Regions from separate parts of the Homo sapiens genome. Here all the other regions are linked to region 1. Evidence: fine-mapped expression QTL. A gene starts in region 1. Each other region holds a variant in brackets. All regions are shown on one strand. Distances are between the middles of the regions.

What was found. PIP is the estimated chance that this variant, and not a neighbour inherited with it, causes the effect.
Region 2: its variant is the best candidate, but not a certain one, in a credible set for the expression of ATP7B in unexposed skin (GTEx, PIP 0.57).
Region 3: its variant is the best candidate, but not a certain one, in a credible set for the expression of ATP7B in cerebellum (GTEx, PIP 0.52).
Region 4: its variant is the best candidate, but not a certain one, in a credible set for the expression of ATP7B in unexposed skin (GTEx, PIP 0.60).

Annotation. Positions count from the first base shown.
Region 1 is chr13:52,008,790-52,013,828 of GRCh38, reverse strand. It overlaps ATP7B (ATPase copper transporting beta), which reads left to right and starts at 2,379. Exons shown (of 21, transcript NM_000053.4): 1 at 2,379-2,542. The coding sequence starts at 2,492. ALG11 (ALG11 alpha-1,2-mannosyltransferase) reads right to left here and starts at 1,431. Exons shown (of 4, transcript NM_001004127.3): 1 at 1,367-1,431. The coding sequence starts at 1,410. RefSeq lists enhancers at 1,173-1,262, 1,313-1,442 and silencers at 1,563-1,662, 1,673-1,782, 1,833-2,172.
Region 2 is chr13:52,096,056-52,101,094 of GRCh38, reverse strand. NEK5 (NIMA related kinase 5) reads left to right here. Exons shown (of 24, transcript NM_001365552.1): 12 at 1,219-1,352. Among named protein-coding and RNA genes, the nearest start is that of NEK5, 30 kb to the left of the region's middle. The variant A/GA (reference allele first, on the strand shown) is at 2,663.
Region 3 is chr13:51,918,638-51,923,676 of GRCh38, reverse strand. It overlaps a transcript of TMEM272 not described here. Among named protein-coding and RNA genes, the nearest start is that of CCDC70, 59 kb to the right of the region's middle. The variant G/A (reference allele first, on the strand shown) is at 2,423.
Region 4 is chr13:51,981,333-51,986,371 of GRCh38, reverse strand. The region is part of intron 1 of ATP7B (ATPase copper transporting beta); the gene reads left to right. Among named protein-coding and RNA genes, the nearest start is that of ATP7B, 28 kb to the left of the region's middle. The variant C/T (reference allele first, on the strand shown) is at 3,090.

The DNA.
Region 1 (5,039 bases):
TGGGACCTGCATGGTCCATGGAGCACAATTTGAGAACCACTGCCTTAAAGGATGAACAGAGTCTGACAAAAGTGGTAAGATTTATCATTTATTTAACATTTGGAATATATGAATTCATAAAAGCAACACTACAGAGGACAGTTTGCTTTCTCAGGACACTCTTTCAAAAGCTTATTTAAAATGCAGCTGACCCATATAATGTAAAGGTTTTTCTGGCAATTCCTTCAAATAATTTAGGTGGGAAAATTCATGTGACAAGCTTTTCAAACTGAACTATTAAACATTTAACTTAAAAGCTGCATAATAACTAAAGTTAAACCTGTCCTTTAAGTCTGGTTAGTGAGTTTATTTAAACATTATAATGTAAAGCACTGAGGAATATTACGTATGACAGGGAAGAACCAAAAGGCTCTGATAACAGACTTTCTCATTCAAAATGTTTAAAGTAATGATTACAGAATTTGAAGTAGAGTGGACAAAAACGAAGAAGAAATGCCTGAACTTTTGAAAGAATTAGGTATATACTGCTATTCAGGAAGCTATGGTGTTAATTATAAATTTTCAGCCTGAACAAAAATATGTAGGTGGTAAAAAAACTAGGTAGGTAGAATATACTAGGCCTTCTGTTTTATTAGTGGAGGGCAAGGCATTTAAAATACAGTAGTACTACAACAACAAAGGTGGAAAAAAGCCTGGGAGTTTTTTCACCAAAATGTTAACAGTGGCTATCTCCGGATGGTAGCATTCCTGGGGTTTTTTCCTTTTACTTATCTATTTTCTAATTTTTCTAGAAGAAACAGCATATACACGTAATACAAATAAAATAATATTTTATGTAACTTCTTACATCATAAAAATTAAAGTAACAGATTATCAAAAAGCAGAGGATTCAACATAAGCTTTATATTTAAGTGACGTGTTAACAATGGCAGTTTTGGTGAGTTTAAGAGTAGAAACTAAGATGAGAAGGAAGATCCGGTTTCTTCTTTACCGAAAAGAGACATGATAGATTGGAAAATGTCTCGTGGCTCAATCGTAAAGAAAAATAAGGAATGAATATGAATAATTTATGACAGACTAACTGGAGTGTGAAAGGGAAAAAAAAAGCTGAAGCAGGGAAGGGAACTCGACCCCTCGGCCAACAGTGAAGCAGAAGAAAACGCGGTAAATTGAGTCTTTAAGACCTAGTCTATTCCAGTCTATATAGAAGACCCCCAAGAAAAAGAAAGACTGCTCATTGGCCTGAGAAATTACCTTAGATTCATGACAAGGAAGGCCATTTGCCCGCAAAATTTAGCTACACTGGACGGGCAAGTACCCCTACAGAAGAGAAAACGTCTGTGAGCCCACACGACCGGCTGCTCACCTCAACAACTTGCACAGGCACCAGCTCCTTTCGCCGGCCGCCATCTTCCGCCGACCCCCGAACTCAGGAAACGCTTCACTTTCCTTTTCCCTATTGGCTCCTGAGAAAGCAAGCCGTGCTCGCCCCGCCCCCACGGGCCAATTGTGCGTTACTATTGGTTACTGGTAGCCGCTTCCCACGGCCTTCCAGCCAATAGAATATGCCGAGGCGTAGACTAGTGTTCGGCGTGGCGCACACGGCTCCCGCCCCCGTGGGCGGGACAGCAGTGGGGGGTTGGGCTGAGGAGGGCGTGGCCTGTGATTGACAGCCGTCGCTCCCTCCCTCGGCCACCTCCCCCACTAGAAGCCCCCGCCTGGGCGCCTGCGCCCCCGTTCCCGGCCCAAAGCCCGCCGCCCGTTGGAGGCCATTGGCTGGCCTTTGCGCACAGCGGATCGATTTTCCAGGTGCGGAGTTCACTCTTGCCGCGGTTGCTTCCTTTGGGACCCACGGCGTCCGGCAGCCAGGCGCAGAGTCCGAGGAGGGGGCAGCGCAGAGCGGACCCGACGCGGCGCCGCCGGGCACCTTCCCCGCAGGCGGTGGGTGAGCCCTGGGAGCTGAGTCTGCGGCCCGGCTCTGCGCAGCTCACCTGCCCTCCCGCTCCCGCACACGCGTGAGATCCCAGTACAGTGTCGGAGCGCACCAGCGCGAGGTGGCCGAGACCGCGGAGGAGGACAGGCCTCCGCCCTGCGGCGCCGGCACGGCAGAGGACATTGTGGCACTGGCACGGCAGAGAACACTGTGGCACCGGCGGGGCCGGCAGTTCCAGGGTGGGCACTCCCAGCCACCTGGGGAGTGGGCGAGGGTCCGAGGCCCACTCTCCCCTCACGCTCTCATCCCCGTGCCCCCAGGTCGGGAGGACGGCGGCGCGCAACTTTGAATCATCCGTGTGAAGAGGGCTGCGGCTTCCCCGGTCCCAAATGAAGGGGCGGTTCCCGGACCCCTGTTTGCTTTAGAGCCGAGCCGCGCCGATGCCCTCACACTCTGCGCCTCCTCTCCCGGGACTTTAACACCCCGCTCTCCTCCACCGACCAGGTGACCTTTTGCTCTGAGCCAGATCAGAGAAGAATTCGGTGTCCGTGCGGGACGATGCCTGAGCAGGAGAGACAGATCACAGCCAGAGAAGGGGCCAGTCGGAAAGTGAGTTTTGTTCCCCCGCGTCCGCGCAGCGTGCTCACTCCCACCAGGAGGATTTTCCTCCCCGCGTTCGGCGCTTACTCGCCCCCAGGGGGTGCGCAGGGAAGGCCGAGCCAGACCCCAGCTCCAGGGATGTCTTGGCGTGGGAGAAAAGGACCCTTTAGAAAAAGTGTGCCGTCAACTGATGTTTGGGAGCAATGGAAAACCCCGCACCTCAAAATTCATCTTTATGCTTTTAAGGGGTCTGATGCTGGAGAGATAAAGTGAGCGTCGAGTTGCTGTGCTAGAGCCCTAATGGCTCAAAACGATGAAGTTAGTTACCTGGAGAAGTTACTCAGAGCCTGGTGCTTGGACCAGATATGGTATATCGAGGTCCTGGAACTTTTATAACTGTTTTAAATTCATTTTAATTGTACAAGTAATACATTAAGACAGTCTTTTAAAAATGGAAACAGCACAGAAATATTTTGCACAAAAAGCAGATCTATTTTTCAGTCTTTTTCTATTCACGTACATATGTCTTCATTCGGCAAATATTTATTGAGAACTTTCTATGTTTCAGGCACACAGTGTTGAGTTGATACAGTGGTTAACAAGACATGTATCTATATGTAATATGCACACATTCAGAGAAATCTTTAGGTTTCATTTGTATGAGGTGTTAAAATTTTTGTTTTACCTAAATGAGATCACTGTATGTGCATTCTCTTTTTTCAGTTTAACGATATATCTTAGAGATTGTTTCACTAACTGTCTAATTCAGTGCAACCTCTGCACAGTTTGGACGCATCATAGTTTATTCATGGTTTCCTAGTGGTGGACGTTCTGTTTGCTACTTTTTTTCTCTCTCTCTTGCAAGTGAACATCTTTGTACATGATTTTTAATGCTGACACTATTTCTTTAGGATAGATACTTAGGCCTGGATTGCTGGACAGAACAGTAGGCTGTTTCTTTTCCACAGATTTCTGAAACTAATTCACTGACGTTGCTGGGTGCCCTTTAGTAGTGAATTCATCTAGGCTCCGGTGATACAGAAATGAAAACTAACGGATTAGTGGACAGACAGAGAGAGGCTGGTTAGTAGGTGGTTTGTAGGGTATGATGACTATGCATTTGATAGGAGTATGAAGAAATGTTGGGAGGGGTGGCTTGTACAGAGGAGATTTCAACTTCCTACAGTGTCCCCACCTAGAGAAAGAAATCATTATCCTTCCAAATCAAGCTCAAGACCTGCCACCTCCTTGAAACGTTCTGTAACTGCTCCTGCCCATGTTGACCTGTCTTCTGGAATCCTCTGATAATAGCGTTGACCAGCGTTATTGAGCTTACTGTGTGCTGGGCATTGTGTTAGGCACTCATATCCCTCTATGTGCACTCTCGCGTTTAATCCTCACAAAAACCCTTTGATGTAGGTATTATATCTTGTTATCAACATTTATTCAACAAATTTTTTTGTGTGTACTATGTGCTCAAACACATAGTACTCAAAGTTTTAGACACTGGGGATTTAGGTAGGACCGAGACCTTGCCCTCATGAATTTACATCCTAGTTGGAGATAGGAAAAAAAAAGGGATAAACAAATGTATAGCGTAGGAGTTAAGGGAAAACTTTTGTGCCCCGTGAAGCGTCACTGAAAAATCAACTGACAAATGGCAGATTAATAGGAGAGAAGGCATACACATTTACTAACGTGCCGTGAGAGTCTTACAACATAAGATCTCAAAGGAAGGCAAGGTGGTTGCCACAATTATACTATCCTGAGGTTACAGAAAGTGTGGGGGCTCTAAGCTTGGCCAAAAACAGGTTATGGTTGTAAATCAGGTTATAGGAGGGAGAGAAGAGGAGACCTGGCTAGCAAAGGTGGTCTTATGTAGATGAAACCTCACAGGTAGCAGCCCTCAGGGAGAAGAAATGTTTCAGACCTTGAAGGTGCCAAATTCAGCTAATCTCACCCAGATCCAGACAAGGAAGGGCCCTCTGAGAAAAACTGGCTGCGTCAATGGAGGTTCTCAACAGATGCTCATCTCCCTCACAGTAGGACTACTTTTGTCTGTAGGCCCTCTGAACGGCCATCTCAAAATATTTCCAATAAGTCTGTTTTGAGGTGAAATGTTTTAGTTTCCTTCAATAGCTTTATTTCAGGTACTAGTAAGTACTATGAAGAAAATAAAGCAGTTTGGGTCCAGGAGTTCAAGACCAGCCTGGCAGCATATCAAGACATCGTTTATACAAAAAAAAAAGAAAAATTAGCTGGGCATAATGGTGTGTGCCTGTCGAACCAGCTACTCGGGAGGCTGAGGCAGGAGGATGGCTTGAGCCCAGGAGTTTGAGGCTACAGTGAGTTGTGATCCCACCACTGCACTTCAGCCTGAGTGATAAAGCAAGATCCTGTCTCAAAAAAAAAGAAAAGAAAAGAAAGCAGAATAAGGGAATAAGATAGGGATTGACATGGGTGGAGAGGAAGATGCTGTTTTAAGTAGGTGGTCAGGGAATGATTT
Region 2 (5,039 bases), 87 kb before region 1:
GTGTCAAGAATCAGCTAAGCTGTGTGTCAGAGGGAGGGGTACGTTAAGAAAGAGAAAATTACTAATTCATTTGATGCTGTGAAAGTCAAAGCCCCAGAATTTAGCTGTAACTGAATGCCTGGACTTACAATATCAGGAGGAGCAGAAAGCCTCTCAAAGGAATCCATGACAGGGAAATGTTATCCATTGAGACAGAGATTCTAAAATCAAGGAAAGTTAAAGAGAAAGTGAATGAGCCTCTTTGCCATTTAATTTGACTAACATTGTTGTATACCAGTCTAGATTGAGAATGTTTAGAAAATAGACAAGTACAGAGTATGGGACTGTGTATTGTCCATATTTCTAATCTAGGTAAGATAGGAGAACAAGAACAATTTTTTTTTTATTGAGATGGGGTCTCACTGTGTTGCCCAGGCTGGTCTCGAACTCCTGAGCTCAAACAATCCTCCTACCTTGGCCTCCCAAATTGCTGGGATTACAGGTGCGAGCCACCTTACTCAGCCCAAGAACAAATTTTGATGGAGATAAAGACAAGCATTAGAAGATCTACTCATACCTCAGTCCTGGCACTTTGGGAGGCCAAGGAGGGCAGGTCACCGGAGGCCAGGAGTTTGATGCCAGTCTGGCCAACATGGCCAAACCATGTCTTTACTAAAAATACAAAAATTAGCTGGACCTGGTGGCCCATGCCTGTAATCCCAGCTCCTTGGGTGGCTGAGGCACAAGAATCGCATGAACTCGGGAGGTGAAGGTTGCAGTGAGCTCAGACCCTGCCACTGCACCGTAGCCCGGGTGACAGAGTGAGACTGTCTCAACAAAAAAAAAAGAGAGAAGATCTACTCATAAATTCCAAACAATGTGGCATGAATGGAGTGGCCTGATAACCCAAGCTCTAATGACCAAATTTAATAACTTTTATTATTACCCCATACATATTGTTTCTGTAAATGTTAATATTAATTTCTATTTTTCTGAAAAAAAGTGATGTTATATATTACTAGAAATATGCAAAGGGACTCTGAAAAAATGGTTTTTTTCATTTAAAGAAATTGCATATTAATTTTTCATCAGTACTCTCACTGTGTGTAAAATATCTCTGGCTAAAAAGTAAACTTACTGTGTTATGAAATGTAGCTTATGTTTATACTCTTACAAGTATCAGTATTAATGGTGTACAATTTTTAAAAAATTGAAGCTGTTTTATTTTGGTTAATTAAGAGTGTAAAATACAAAAAGTGAGATTCCAGGGAAAGTGCCCACCAAGATCAAGGATATCTGTGCCAATTAAAAGGAATGCTATATTGCATAGAAATGAATGGAGACCACCAGCTGGAGCCCAGAAGGCCAGATCTGTAAGTCATTCTAAACCCTCCTTTGTGTTTTTTAGCTATGGTATATGCTTTTTGTTTGTTTGTTTGTTTGTTTTGAGACGGAGTCTCGCTCTGTCGCCAGGCTGGAGTGCAGTGGCGCGATCTCGGCTCACCGCAAACTCCACCTCCCGGGTTCAAGCAATTCTTCTGCCCCAGCCTCCTGAGTAGCTGGGACTACAGACGTGTGCCACTATGCCCAGCTAATTTTTGTATTTTTGGTAGAGATGGGGTTTCACCATATTGGCCAGAATGGTCTCCATCTCTTGACCTCGTGATCCACCTGCCTGGGCCTCCCAAAGTGCTGGGATTACAGGTGTGAGCCATGGCGCCCGGCCCCGGCTAATTTTTATACTTTTAGTAGAGACAGGGTTTCACCATGTTGGTCAGACTGGTCTCGAACTCCTGACCTTGCGATCAGCCTGCCTCGGCCTCCCAAAGTGCTGGTATTACAAGCATAAGCCACTGCACCCAGCTGTTATATTCTTTTTCTTTAATTTTTTAATTAAAAAAAAAATTTTTGTGGGTACATAGTAAGTGTATATATTTATGGGGTATATGAGATGTTTTGATACAGGCAAGCAATGTGAAATAAGCACATCATGGAGAATAGGGTGTTTGTCCCCTCAAGTATTTATCCTTTGAGTTACAAACAACCCAGTTATACTCTGTAACTTATTTCAAAATGTACAATTAAGTTACTATTGACCATAGGCAGTCTATTGTGCTATCAAATAGTAGGTCTTATTCATTCTTTTGTTTTTTTAACCCATTAAGCTATGGTATATTCTGACAGACCTATCTGCACATGTTCATGAGGTACAAGCTTATTGTTTGGAGTCCACAAATTTTGTACTTAAAATGAAGTATTCTGTACTGAGCATTATAATGGTATTTTGTTGGACAACTTCTAGTTTTTATATTTTATGAAACAATGCTGTATGCTCTTATAAGTATACTTTAGGCTTAATTTTCTTTTTATAACTGAAATTCTTCTAATTTCTAATAAATAAGATTTTTCTGTATAGGAAAAGTGAGTAACATAGCAACAGAAAACACTCTGCATTTAATATTCTTAATTCTAACATATTATGTATAGGATTGAGAAGTTTTTATGATATAATAATTGATATTTCCCTAGTGATTCTTTGTGTTTAATTATTTGAATTCACTTCAGCAGAGTGTTGAATCTTTTAGGTCATACTAGTGAAATGCTTCTGGTATGTAAATGATAAAATGGCTACTGTCTTTTAATTAAAGAATTGTATTTTTAAAGAAGGCTCATGGTTAAATTA[A/GA]GAACCATTTGGAAGTGTATTTACTAAGTGTTTACTTGATATATAGACATTTTAGAAAATGTGTTGGTATATAAACATTTTTTTAAAAACCGATTGTTTAAGTTATTGCCCTTCATTTGATAAAGGGCTTTATTTATTTATTTATTTATTTATTTATTTATTTATTTATTTGAAAGAGGGTCCTGCTGTGTCACCCAGGCTAGAGGGCAGTGGCATGTCTCAGCTCACTGCAGCCTGGATGTATTAGTCTGTTCTCATACTACTATAAAGAACTGCTTGAGACTGGGTAGTTGATAAAGACAAGAGGTTTAATTGGCTTACAGTTCTGCAGGCTGTACAGGATGCATTGCTGGGGAGGCCGCAGGAAACTTATAATCATGGCAGAAGGGGAAGCAGGCTCATCTTAAATGGCCAGAGCAGGAGAAAGAGAGCAAAGGGGGAGGTGCTACACACTTGTAAACAACCAGATCTCTGGAGAACTTACTATCACAAGAACAGTAAGAGGGAAATCTGTCCCCATAATCTAATCACCTTCCACCAGGCCCCTCCTCCAACATCAGGGATTACAATTCAACATGAAATTTGGGCAGGGACACAAATCCAAACCATATCATTCCACCTTTGGCCCCTCCCAATTCCCATATCCTTCTCACATTGCAAAATACAATTATCCCTTCTCAACAGTCCCCCAAGGCTTAACTCATTTCAGCATTAACTCAAAAGTCCACAATTCAAGGTCTCTCTGAGACAAGTCAAGTCCCTTCCACCTGTGAGGCTGTAAAATAAAAAACAAGTTAGTTACTTCCAAAATACAATGAGGGTACAGGCATTGGGTAAATACACCCATTTCAAAAGGGAGAAATCAGCCAAAACAAAGGGTTTATAGACCCCATGCAAATTCAAAACCTAGCAGGGCAGTCATTAAATCTTAAAGCTCCAAATTCCTTTGACCCCATGTCTCACATCCAGGGCATACTGGTGTGAGGAGTGGGCTCTCAAGGCCTTGGGCAGCTCTGCTCCTGAGGCTTTGCAGGCTACAGCCCCTGCGGCTGCTCTCACAGGCTGCTGTTGAGTGTCTGCGGCTTTTCCAGGTGCGTGGTGCAAGCTGTCGTTCAATCTACCGTTTTTGGAGTCAGGAGAATGGTGGCCCTCTTCTCACAGCTCCACTAAGCAGTGCCCCAGTGGGGACTCTGTGTGGAGGCTCCAATGCCACATTTCCCCTCTGCACTGCCCTAGTAGAGGGTCCCCCTGAAACAGGCTTCTGCCTGGACGACTAGGCTTTTCCATACATCTTCTGAGATCTTGGTGGAGGCTCCCACGCCTCAACTCTTGCACTCTGTGCATCTGCAGACTTAACACCATGTGGAAGCCACCAAGATTTACGGCTTGCACCCTCTGAAGCAATGGCCTGAGCTGTACCTTGGGCCGTTTTAACCATGGCTGGAGCTGGAGCAGCCACAATACAGGACACCATGTCCTGAGGCTGCACAGAGCAGTGGGGCCCTGGGCTTGGTCCTCAAAGCCATTCTTCCCTCCTAGGCCTCTGGGCCTGTGATGAGAGGGGCTGCCTCAAAGGTCTCTGAAATGCCTTCAAGGCATTTCCCCCATTATCTTGGCTAACAACATTTGACTCCTCTTTATTTTTGAAAATTTCTGCAGCTGGTTTGAATTGCTCCCCAGAAAATGGGTTTTTCTTTCTAGGCTGCAAACTTTCCTAACTTTTACACTCTGCTTCTCTTTTAAGTATAAGCTCTGGTTTTACATCATTTATTTGCTCACAAATATGACCATAGGGTGCTAGAGCAGCCAGGCCACATCTTGAATACTTTGTTGCTTAGAAATTTTTTCTGTCAGACGCCCTAAATCATCACTCTCAAGTTCAAAGTTCCACAGATCCCTAGGGTAGTGGCACAATGCCTCCAACCTCTTTGCTAATTCATAACAAAAGTGTCCTTTGCTGCATTTCTCAATAAGTTCCTCATCTCCATCTGAGACCTCCTTAGCCTGGACTTTATTGACCATATCACTATCAGCATTTTGGTCACTATGATTTTAAGAAGTCTCTAGGGCATTCCAAACTTTCCATCATCTTCCTATCTTCTTCTGAGCCCTCCACGCTCTTCCAACCTCCGCCCATTACCCAGTTCCAAAGTCACTTTCACATTTTCAGGTATCTTTATACAATACCCCACTCCTGGTATCAATGTACTGTGTTAGTCCATTCTCATACTGCTATAAAGAACACCTGAGACTGGGTAATTTATAAAGAAAATACATTTAATTGGCTCACAGTTCTGCAGGCTGTACAGGAAGTATGGCTGGGGAGGCCTCAGGAAATTTATAATCATAGCAGAAGGGGAGGCAGGCTCATCTTACA
Region 3 (5,039 bases), 90 kb after region 1:
ATCTTCCTTTTTTTCCATCCCTTCCTTCTCTCCTCCCTTCTTTTTCTCTCTTCTTCTTTGAACAGGCAGCTTTGGAGCTGTTTGTCTCACCAGTGGCTCTCAAGTCCACAGCGCCAGCCCCAAAGCATCTGAGTGGCTGCCGGCACTTTCCACTGTGAGATGTGCTGCCTGAGGGTCTGGTGCTTGGCTGTGGGCTTTCAACCGATCTCAGTGTGGGTGTGGCACAACTGACACTGTTGCTTTTCCTGGCCTTAACAAGCCACCCATTCCATCGCCTCCCCAGGTGGCTGTGGTGGTGGCAGTGAAGCCTGTCAGGTCACAGAGCAGCTCCTCACCAGCCCATCGCATTCTGTCTCCGGAGAGGTCCCATCACAGGCGATGGGGCAGAGAGGACTGAGTCGCAGCCCAGATCTCAGTGTCTAGGACTGGACTTGGTTTGTCAAAAGTGTAGTCTCCCATCCCTGCTGGCATTGGCAGGCTGCAGTGCAGAGTGCCTAGGGCTCATCAGGATTTGCCAACAGAGGCTTGTCCAAGAATCATCCAGCCAGCTCCACGTGAGGTTACATTGCCATCACCGGACTCTGATGGAGGATTCAGACAGCCCACTCCATGCCTCCAGCACCACACCCTGCAGCTGGCAGAACAGTGGCCCCCAAGACATCCTCATCCGAATCCTCAGAGCCTGTGAAGGGCAAAAGGAGCCCTGCACATGTGATTAAGGGTCTTGACATGGCAAGAGGATCCTGGACCATGTGGGTGGCCCCAGATAATCACAAGGGTGTTTCTAAGAGGGAGGTAGGAGGATCAGAGAGGAGATGCAATGATAGAGGAAGAGGTTGGAGGGATGCGATTGGAGATGGAGGCAGGGCCACAAGCCAAGGACTGTGGTGGCCTCAGAAGCTGGAAGAGGCGAGGAATAGATCCTCCCTTGGAGCCTCCAGAAGGACCCAGCCCTGCCCACATCTTGATTTTAGCTCATAAGACCCATTTCAAACTTCCAACCTCTGGGACGGTAAGAGGACAAATTTGCATTGTTTTAAGCCATGAAGTTTGCAGTAGTTTGTTACAGCTGCAACAGGAAGTGAATCCACCCACCTAAGCTCTTCTGCAGGTGTGATCCCTGTCCCACAGGAGTCACTGCTGTCGCCTGGCAGGTTGAGGCTGCAGTGAGCTGTGATCACACCACTGTGCTCCAGCCAGGGTGACAGGGCCAGACCCTGTCCCCAAAACTAAATAAATAAAAATAATTTAAAAAATTACCGTGAAAAGTATCAACTGCTTTGTATATAGAAATACAACCCAGCAGTCCTGGGAACAGGAGCCTAAGCCTGGGCCACGCCCACCCAAGACTTCTCTGAAGAAGCCTCTGAAGCTGAGCGCATTTGGGAATCACTAGTGTATAAACAGGGCTCTTTTCTGGAGATGACCCTTCCTGTGTTTATCTGCCCCGTGAGTCATTAAGAAAAGGGCATGTGCCCAGCATTTCCCAACGAACTGTGAAACCTTTTTTCAAGCGATAACTCCTGCGGTTGGATGGTCTGTAAAGGATGAACTGATACGCCATCTCCACCCTCTGACACTCCCTGCTCAAGAGGCCAGGGCTGCCTGCAGAGAGGTGTGAGGGAGGAACAAGAAAACAAAGACGTTAAGTCTTGACAGTTATGTTTTAAAAAGCACAACCCACACGTATAAATGAGTGGAGAGATTGCATGATCAGGCTGAACCAACACATATCCCCAACACACACACACATACACACACACACGCACACAGTGGGTGGGGAGGGATACTGATGAGAAAGAATGTGAGAAAGATTACATCAGGTTGAGTTTCTGAGAAAATGCTTTGGACCTCCGCTCCCCAGCTGAGTGGGAGAGAGGGGAGAGCAGGGGGCACATGTCTGTGAGAAAAAGATGCTTGAGCCCCTTAAGTTCTGACGGCTTGAAGGTAGAGCAGACCATTATCCCCTTATGCTGCGTTAATGTCCTGGAAGAGGAGTTGCCCAGAGCTTCCCCTGTGGCCTGGGTGAGCAAAGGACAGGTGTTGCCTGGATGTGTGCTTAGGTGGGCTACTGACAGCAAGAGCTCCGAGGAAGAGGGTGCCTGGTGTGCCTTAGAGAGGCACAGCCCCCAGGGGTGCCCCACCTCGGTAGATTCCCTTGCCTGGAGGTAGACTTGCAGGAACTGCTCTGAGCTTAGACACTGAAGACTGAGGAGCAAATCCGCTGCTAGGCTGGGATGAGCAGCCTTCTTTCCTGCCCTTGGATCATTTAAGTCTCCTGGATTTCTGTGAGACTTTGGGAGCCTCCTGGAGTCCAGTAACAACCAATCTGTAATTTCCAGCCCAGTGGAATTAGAGACTGGAATAGCAGTTCACTAGAGACCCAGGTTTATGGATTGAGAGGCAAACCTGCTAGATATCC[G/A]AACGTCTGCTCTGCACCAGGTCTTGAAGGAAAACCCAGGGCTTGCCCCATCTCTTGCCACACACCTTACTGCTCATGGTCACTGCAGGTACTTGACAGCCTGAGAAATGTGTAGCCGCTTCTCCATTCTCAGATCAATGTCTGCGTATTGACCAGGGTCAGCACTCAATGGCTGCCTCCTGATACAGCAAGCTCTCTGCCTAGCTCCTCTCCCACCAGGCGTCGCAGAGCTGTGAATTGCAGTTATCACAAGCAAAATGAAATGAGTTTGAGCCTAAGGGGAATCCATAATTGGAGTGCAGGAATGTTGCAGTTTCACAGCTGGGCCTCAGGCACGATGGGGCAGAGAATCTGAAGGCCACCGGAAGTCCACTTGCAATAAATACTCATTAGGTGACTGTCGCAATTGTAGGTGAGGGATCTACAGCCAAGAAACGATTCAGACAAGGCTCCTGCCCTTCATGAGTTTACATTCTAGTGGAACAAAGAGACAGCAATAATAGGCAAATCCTGTCATTTCTGCCAGTGGAAAGTGCCATGAAGACACTGTAGCAGGACAGCAGGGTAGAGGAGGCAGTGATGAGAGGTGGGGAGGGGGATTGCCATGGGAAGATACTGCCCTGTGAGTGAGAAAGCCCTGAGGGGACCCGGCTGGGAGGGTCAGCACTGGTGCACATGGGTAGGATGGAGGGAGGCAGGAAGAACAGGCCCAGATCTCAAAGACACCAGCAGAGCAAGAAGTTGACACTTTATTGCAAAGCTGCTGGGAGACATTGGAGGGCTTGAAGGAGGGGCGTGACATGATTTGCTTCATGTGGTGAGTGGATTGTAGGGGAGTGAAGAGGCCATGCCCTACCCAGACCCTCCTCAGGGCTCACCTGTGCTGCCTGGCACAGAGCAGGAGTGGAAATACACGTTGGCTGAATTACTGTCAAAGTCTTATCTTTTCTCTGTCAAGTCTTAGCTGGCTTGAGACCATGTAGTTCCCTTCATCTGGAAAATGACACCAAATATTCTATAACTAGCTGTTATCAGACCCGTTTCAGGAGCAGTGCAAAATACAGGCAGCAGCGCAAAATACAGGCAGCAGCTCACATCTTTCTGCTGAGAGGTAAAACGCTTGCTGAGAGTATGTTCTTTGGTTGCAGGCATATACATTGCTATTAAAATGCCTCTTGGATTCCTCACTGCAACGTCATACCTGGACTTCCACAAAATAATTCCACGTATTGCCTAGTCCTTAGCTCCTGAGCCTGGTGATAGAAAGCCTCCCTCCCTCCTTTCCTTCCTTCCTTCTTCCTTTCCTTCCTTCCTTTTCTCCTTCATATTAATCCACTATGAGCTAGGCATGATGCATTAATAGCATAGAGATGAAAGTACTCACTTTCTTTGCTTGCATTTGAGTGGGGGAGTCAGAAAAGCAAACAAGCACAAGAAAATGTCACAGGGACGGTGGCAGGTGAGGAGAGCGACATGCTCACGCAGGTGCGCAGCAGGAGACCTGCAAAGGCAGGTCACCATGGCACCGTTTGCTCGGGACACAGCCGAGACGTCTGCTTAGGGAAGTGGACAGACAACTTGCGATGTGTGTCATAAGAGAAAGTATTTACTCTGCAGCATTCAGAATGAACCAACAGGATCTGTGTGTATCAATATGGGGAAAACACAGTGTTGAGTGAAAAAAATTACAGATACTTAAAGAGTCATGAAGATTAAAAAAAATAATTTTATGTATTGTTCTAGACACCAGTCTCTGTGGTCAAAGTACAAACATGGTCTGGGGCTATATACCAAGTTCAGATCGGTGGTTTCCTATGGGGAGCAAGAGAAGAGAATGGGGTCTGGGAGAGGTGTGTCGGGGCCTTCAGCTATATTTGTAACTTGTTATTTCTAAAACTATGAAGCAAATGTACCAAAATGTCAGCACTGGTTAAATCTGGGTAGTGGGTCAGGGATTTTGTCTTCTTATTCTCTGTATTTATATACATATTTAAAATATGTGTAAATTTTTAAAAATACACGTGGGTCTGGTGTTTGTAGAGAGGGCAGGACTAAAGCTATAGCATTGGCTCACCTTCACAGCAGGCTCAGGTGAATCAGTGGGCTGGGGAGTTTCACCTGGGCCTCGGCACTGGCCACTGGCACTTCACACAGAGGCGAGCAAGGGCCTTGGGAAGCACTTATTTTTCACAAAGCAGGTAGAGAAAGAGAAGGAAAAGATGGGAATAGGAGGTTTCAGAAAGGAGCAGAGCCAGGAGAGATGTGTCATAAGGAGGTCCAGGAAAGAAAAATAATTTCTAATTATGGGGCCGGTCATGGTGGCTCATGCCTGTAATCCTGGCACTTTGGGAGGCCAAGGTGAGTGGATCACTTGAACTCAAGAGTTCGAGACCAGCCTGGGCAACATGGCAAAACCCTGTCTCTACAAAAAAAAAAAAAAAAAAAAAAAAAGAATTTCAAAAATTAGCCAGGCATGGTGACGTGTCCCTGTGGTCCCAGCTACTTGGGAGGCTGAGGTGGGAGGATACTTGAGCTGGGGAGGTTCAGGCTTCAGTGAGCTGTGATTGCACCACTGTGCTCCAGCCTGGATGACAGAGCAAGACGTTGTTCCAAAGAC
Region 4 (5,039 bases), 27 kb after region 1:
CTTCTTCCTAGTTTAGACTTTGGAGGGTGTATGTGTCCAGGAATTTATCCATTTCTTCTAGATTTTCTAGTTCATTTGCTTAGAGGTGTTTGTAGTATTCTCTGATGGTAGTTTGTATTTCTGTGGGATCGGTGGTGATATCTCCTTTATCATTTTTTATTGCATCGATTTGATTCCTCTCTCTTTTCTTCTTTATTAGTCTGGCTAGCGGTCTATCTATTTTGTTGATCTTTTCAAAAAACCAGCTCCTGGATTCATTGATTTTTTTGAAAGGTTTTTCATGTGTCTATCTCCTTCAGTTCTGTTTTGATCTTAGTTATTTCTTGTCTTCTGCTAGCGTTTGAATTTCTTTGCGCTTGCTGCTCTAGTTCTTTTAATTGTGGTGTTAGGGTGTTGATTTTAGAGCTTTCCAGCTTTCTTTTGTGGGCATTTAGTCCTAGAAATTTCCCACTAACCAGTGCTTTGGCTGTGTCCCAGAGATTCTGGGATGTTGTGTCTTTGTTCTCATTGGCTTCAAAGAACTTATTTCTGCCTTAATTTCATTATTTACCCAGTAGTCATTCAGGAGCAGGTTGTTCAGTTTCCATGTAGTTTTACAGTTTTGAGTGAGTTTCTTAATCCTGAGTTCTAATTTGATTGCACTGTGATCTGAGAGACTGTTTGTTATTATTTCTGTTCTTTTGCATTTGCTGAGGAGTGTTTCACTTCCAATTATGTGGTCAATTTTAGGATAACTGCAATGTGGTGCTGAGAAGAATGTATATTCTGTTGATTTGGGGTGGAGAGTTCTGTAGATGTCTATTAAGTCTGTTTGGTCCAGAGCTGATTTCAAGCCCTGAATATCGTTGTTAATTTTCTGCCTCATTGATCTGTCTAATATTGACAGTGGGGTGTTAAAGTCTCCCACTATTACTGTGTGGAAGTCTAAGTCTTTTTGTAGGTCTCTAAGAACTTGCTTTATGAATCTGGGTGTTCCTGTATTGGGTGCATATATATTTAGGATAGTTAGCTCTTCTTGTTGCATTGATCCCTTTACCATTATGTAAGGCCCTTCTTTGTCTCTTTTGATCTTTTTGGTTTAAAGTCTGTTTTATCAGAGACTAGGATTCCAACCCCGACTTTTTTTTGCTTTCCATTTGCTTGGTAAATCTTCCTCCATCCCTGTATTTCGAGCCTATGTGTGTGTTTGCACATGAGGTGGGTCTCCTGAATACAGCACATCAATGAGTCTTGACTCTTTATCCAATTCGCCAGTCTGTGTCTTTTAATTGGGGCATTTAGCCTGTTTACGTTTAAGGTTAGTATTGTTATGTGTGAATTTGATCCTGTCATTATGATGCTAGCTGGTTATTTTGGCTATTAGTTGATGCAGTTTCTTCATAGTGTCTATGGTCTTTACAATTTGGTATGTTTTTGCAGTGACTGGTACCAGTTGTTCCTTTCCATGTTTAGTGCTTCCCTTCAGGAACTCTTGTAAGGCAGGCCTAGTGGTGACAAAATCTCTCAGCATTTGCTTGTCTGTAAAGAATTTTATTTCTCCTTCACTTATGAAGCTTAGTTTGGCTGGATATGAAATTCTGGGTTGAAAATTATTTTCTTTAAGAATGTCGAATATTGGCCCCTATTCTCTTCTGGCTTGTAGGGTTTCTGCAGAGAGATCTGCTGTTAAGTCTGATGAGCTTCCCTTTGTGGGTAACCTGACCTTTCTCTCTGGCTGCCCTCAACATTTTTTCCTTCATTTCAAGCTTGGTGAATCTGACGATTATGTGTCTTGGGGTTGCTCTTCTTGAGGAGTATCTTTGTTGTGTTCTCTGTATTTCCTGAATTTGAATGTTGGCCTGTCTTGCTAGGTTGGGGAAGTTCTCCTGGATAATATCCTGAAGAGTGTTTTCCAACTTGGTTCCATTCTCCCCGTCATTTTCAGGTACACCAGTCAAACTTATGTTTGGTCTTTTCACATAGTCTTATATTTCTTGGAGGCTTTGTTTGTTCCTTTTCATTCTTTTTTCTCTATCTTGTCTTCACGCTTTATTTCATTAAGTTGATCTTCAGTCGCTGATATTCTTTCTTCTGCTTGATCGATTTGGCTATTGATACTTGTGTATGCTTCACGAAGTTCTTGTGCTGTGTTTTTCAGCTCCATCAGGTCATTTATGTTCCTCTCTAAACTGATTATTCTAGTTAGCAATTTCTCTAACCTTTTTTCAGGGTTCTTAGCTTCCTTGCCTTGGGTTAGAACATGCTACTTTAGCTCGGTGGAGTTTTTTTATTACCCACCTTCTAAAACCTACTTCTGTCAATTTGTTAAACGCATTCTCCATCCAGTTTTGTTCCCTTGCTGGCGAGGGAGTTGTGATCCTTTGAAGGAGAAGAGGCATTCTGGTTTTTGGAATTTTCAGGCTTGTTGCGCTGGTTTCTCCCCATCTTCATGGATTTATCTACCTTTGCTTTTTGATGTTGGTGACCTTCGGATGGCGTTTCTGAGTGGACGTCCTTTTTGTTGATATTGATGCTATACCTTTCTGTTTGTTAGTTTTCCTTCTAACAGTCAGGTCCCTCTGCTGCAGGTCTGCTAGAGTTTGCTGGAGGTCCACTCCAGACCCTGTTTGCCTGAGTATCACCAGCAGAGGCTACAGAACAGCAAAGATTGCTGCCTGTTCCTTCCTGGAAGCATTGTCCCTGAGGGGCACCTGCCAGATGCCAGCCAGACTCTCTTGTATGGGGTATCTTTTGGCCCCTGCTGGGGGGTGTCTCCTGGTCAGGAGACACAGGGGTCACGGACCCACTTGAGGAGGCAGTCTGACCCTTAGCAGAGCTCGAGCACTGTGCTAGGAGATCCACTGCTCTCTTCAGAGCTGGCAGGCAGGGACCTTTGAGACTGCTGAAGCTGCACCCACAGCCACCATTTGCCCCAGGTGATCTGTCCCAGGGAGATGGCTTCATCTATAAGCCCCTGACTGGGGCTGCTGCCTTTTTTTCAGAGATGCCCTGCCCAGAGAAGAGGAATCTAGAGAGGCAGTCTAGCTACAGTAGCTTTGCTGAGCTGCGGAGGGCTCCAGCCAGTTGCCATTTCCCTGTGGCTTTGTTTA[C/T]ACTATGAGGGGAAAACCACCTGCTCAAGCCTCAGTAATGGTGGATGCCCCTCCCCCGACCAAGCTTGAGCATCCCAGGTCGATTTCAGACTGTTGTGCTGGCAGTGAGAATTTCAAACCAGTGGATCTTAACTTGCTGGGCTCTGTAGGGGTGGGATCCGCTGAGCTAGACCACTTGGCTCCCTGGCTTCAGCCACCTTTCCAGGCGAGTGAACGGTTCTGTCTTGCTGGCATTCCAGGCACCACTGGGGTATGAAAAAAAAACTCCTGCAGCTAGCTTGGTGTCTGCCCAAACGGCTGTCCAGTTTTGTGCTTGAAACCCAGGGCCCTGGTGGTGTAGGCACCCGAGGGAATCTCCTGGTCTGTGGGTTGTGAAGACCGTGGGAAAAGTGTAGTGCCTGGACCAGAGTGCACCATTCCTCATGGCACAGTCCCTCGCGGCTTCCCTTGGCTAGTGGAGGAGGTTCACTAACCACTTGTGCTTCCTGCATGAGGCAACACCCCACCCTGCTTTGGCTTGCCCTCCATGGGCTGTACCCGCTGTTTAACCAGATGAGCTGGGTACCTCAGCTGGAAATGCAGAAATCACCCTCCTTCTGCGTTGATCTCGCTGGGAGCTGCAGACTGGAGCTGTTCCTATTCGGCCATCTTGCCACAAGCTGATGTTAGTCTTTTAGGGCCCATTAGCTCTCAAGCCTTCCTGTACAACTGTAAGATGGCCATTATTATTACTCCCGCCAGATGCCAGCCGGAGCTTTCTTGTATCTAAACCTGTGTTTGTTTTTTAAAACTCATCAGGAGAGTTTTTTCCTCCAAAGATCATCTTAATTGAAGAACTGAATTAAAAGCATACATGTGCCCTGTGTCTACACTTAAAACTATCCAAAACACAAACCTTTATACCTAAAGGAAACTGAGGCCTGGATTTGCTCAGATAATGCTGGAATTCATACTTAAAACTCTCAGACATACCCTCAAGAAATTCAGAAGTAGGAAAGACAGATATTTAAACAAATATATGTGAAAATGCTCTTTGAACTATAAAGCAATTTACAAAAGTGTCATCAATTCATCATTGTTGTTATCTTTATCACAGTCAATAATATTGTTGCCCAAATTAGAATGGTTTAACAAAACATTTTCTTCCTTGCCTTAGAGCAGGGGTGTCCAAACTTTTGACTTTCCTGGGCCACATTAGAAGAAGAATGTGTCTTCGGCCACACATAAAATACGCTAACACTAATAATAGATGATGAGCTAAAAAAAAAAAAAAAAAATTCACACCCAAAAAAATCTCATTATGTTTTAAGAAAGTTTACAAATTTGTGTTGGGCCGTATTCAAAGCCATCCTGGGCTGCATGTGGCTTGCAGGCCATGGGTTGGACAGGCTTGCCTTAGACAAACGGGAAAATCACATTTATTTTCTGCTTGTGAAAGTAACACTTGTTTTTTTAATTTAAGTTTGAAAAATTGGAACTATGTACAGATATTTTTAAAAATCAGTATTTCATAACTCACCAAAAGATAACCTGAATTTTCTCTACTGATATTTACGTTTATCCCCCTGTATACTTAATGTTCATAGAGGTTAATATGGGACATTGATTCTTCCTCAGTGGGGGTTTTAGAGACCAACCCCCACTGGCCTGGATGCCTGGGATGGTTTGGGTGAGATCCTTTCTTGAGTCAGGCATCATTTTTGACCTGTGCCCTCCCCTGTGAATTTGTGGCATCCAGAGAATTCTTAGATAAGGCCGAGCAAGGCAGTACTCATTCCAGATATTCAGGATGTACGTGGTCCAGAGCTGTTGTCTTCTCTGACTTGTGTCTTGTGTGCCTTCTCCTGTAAGTGTGGTTGCCTTGATTAGGGATATTGAGGAAAGTGGAGCGAGTGTGGATATTTTGCTGTAGTTTTCCTGAGGTGACAGATACTAGTGGGTGAAGCCAGG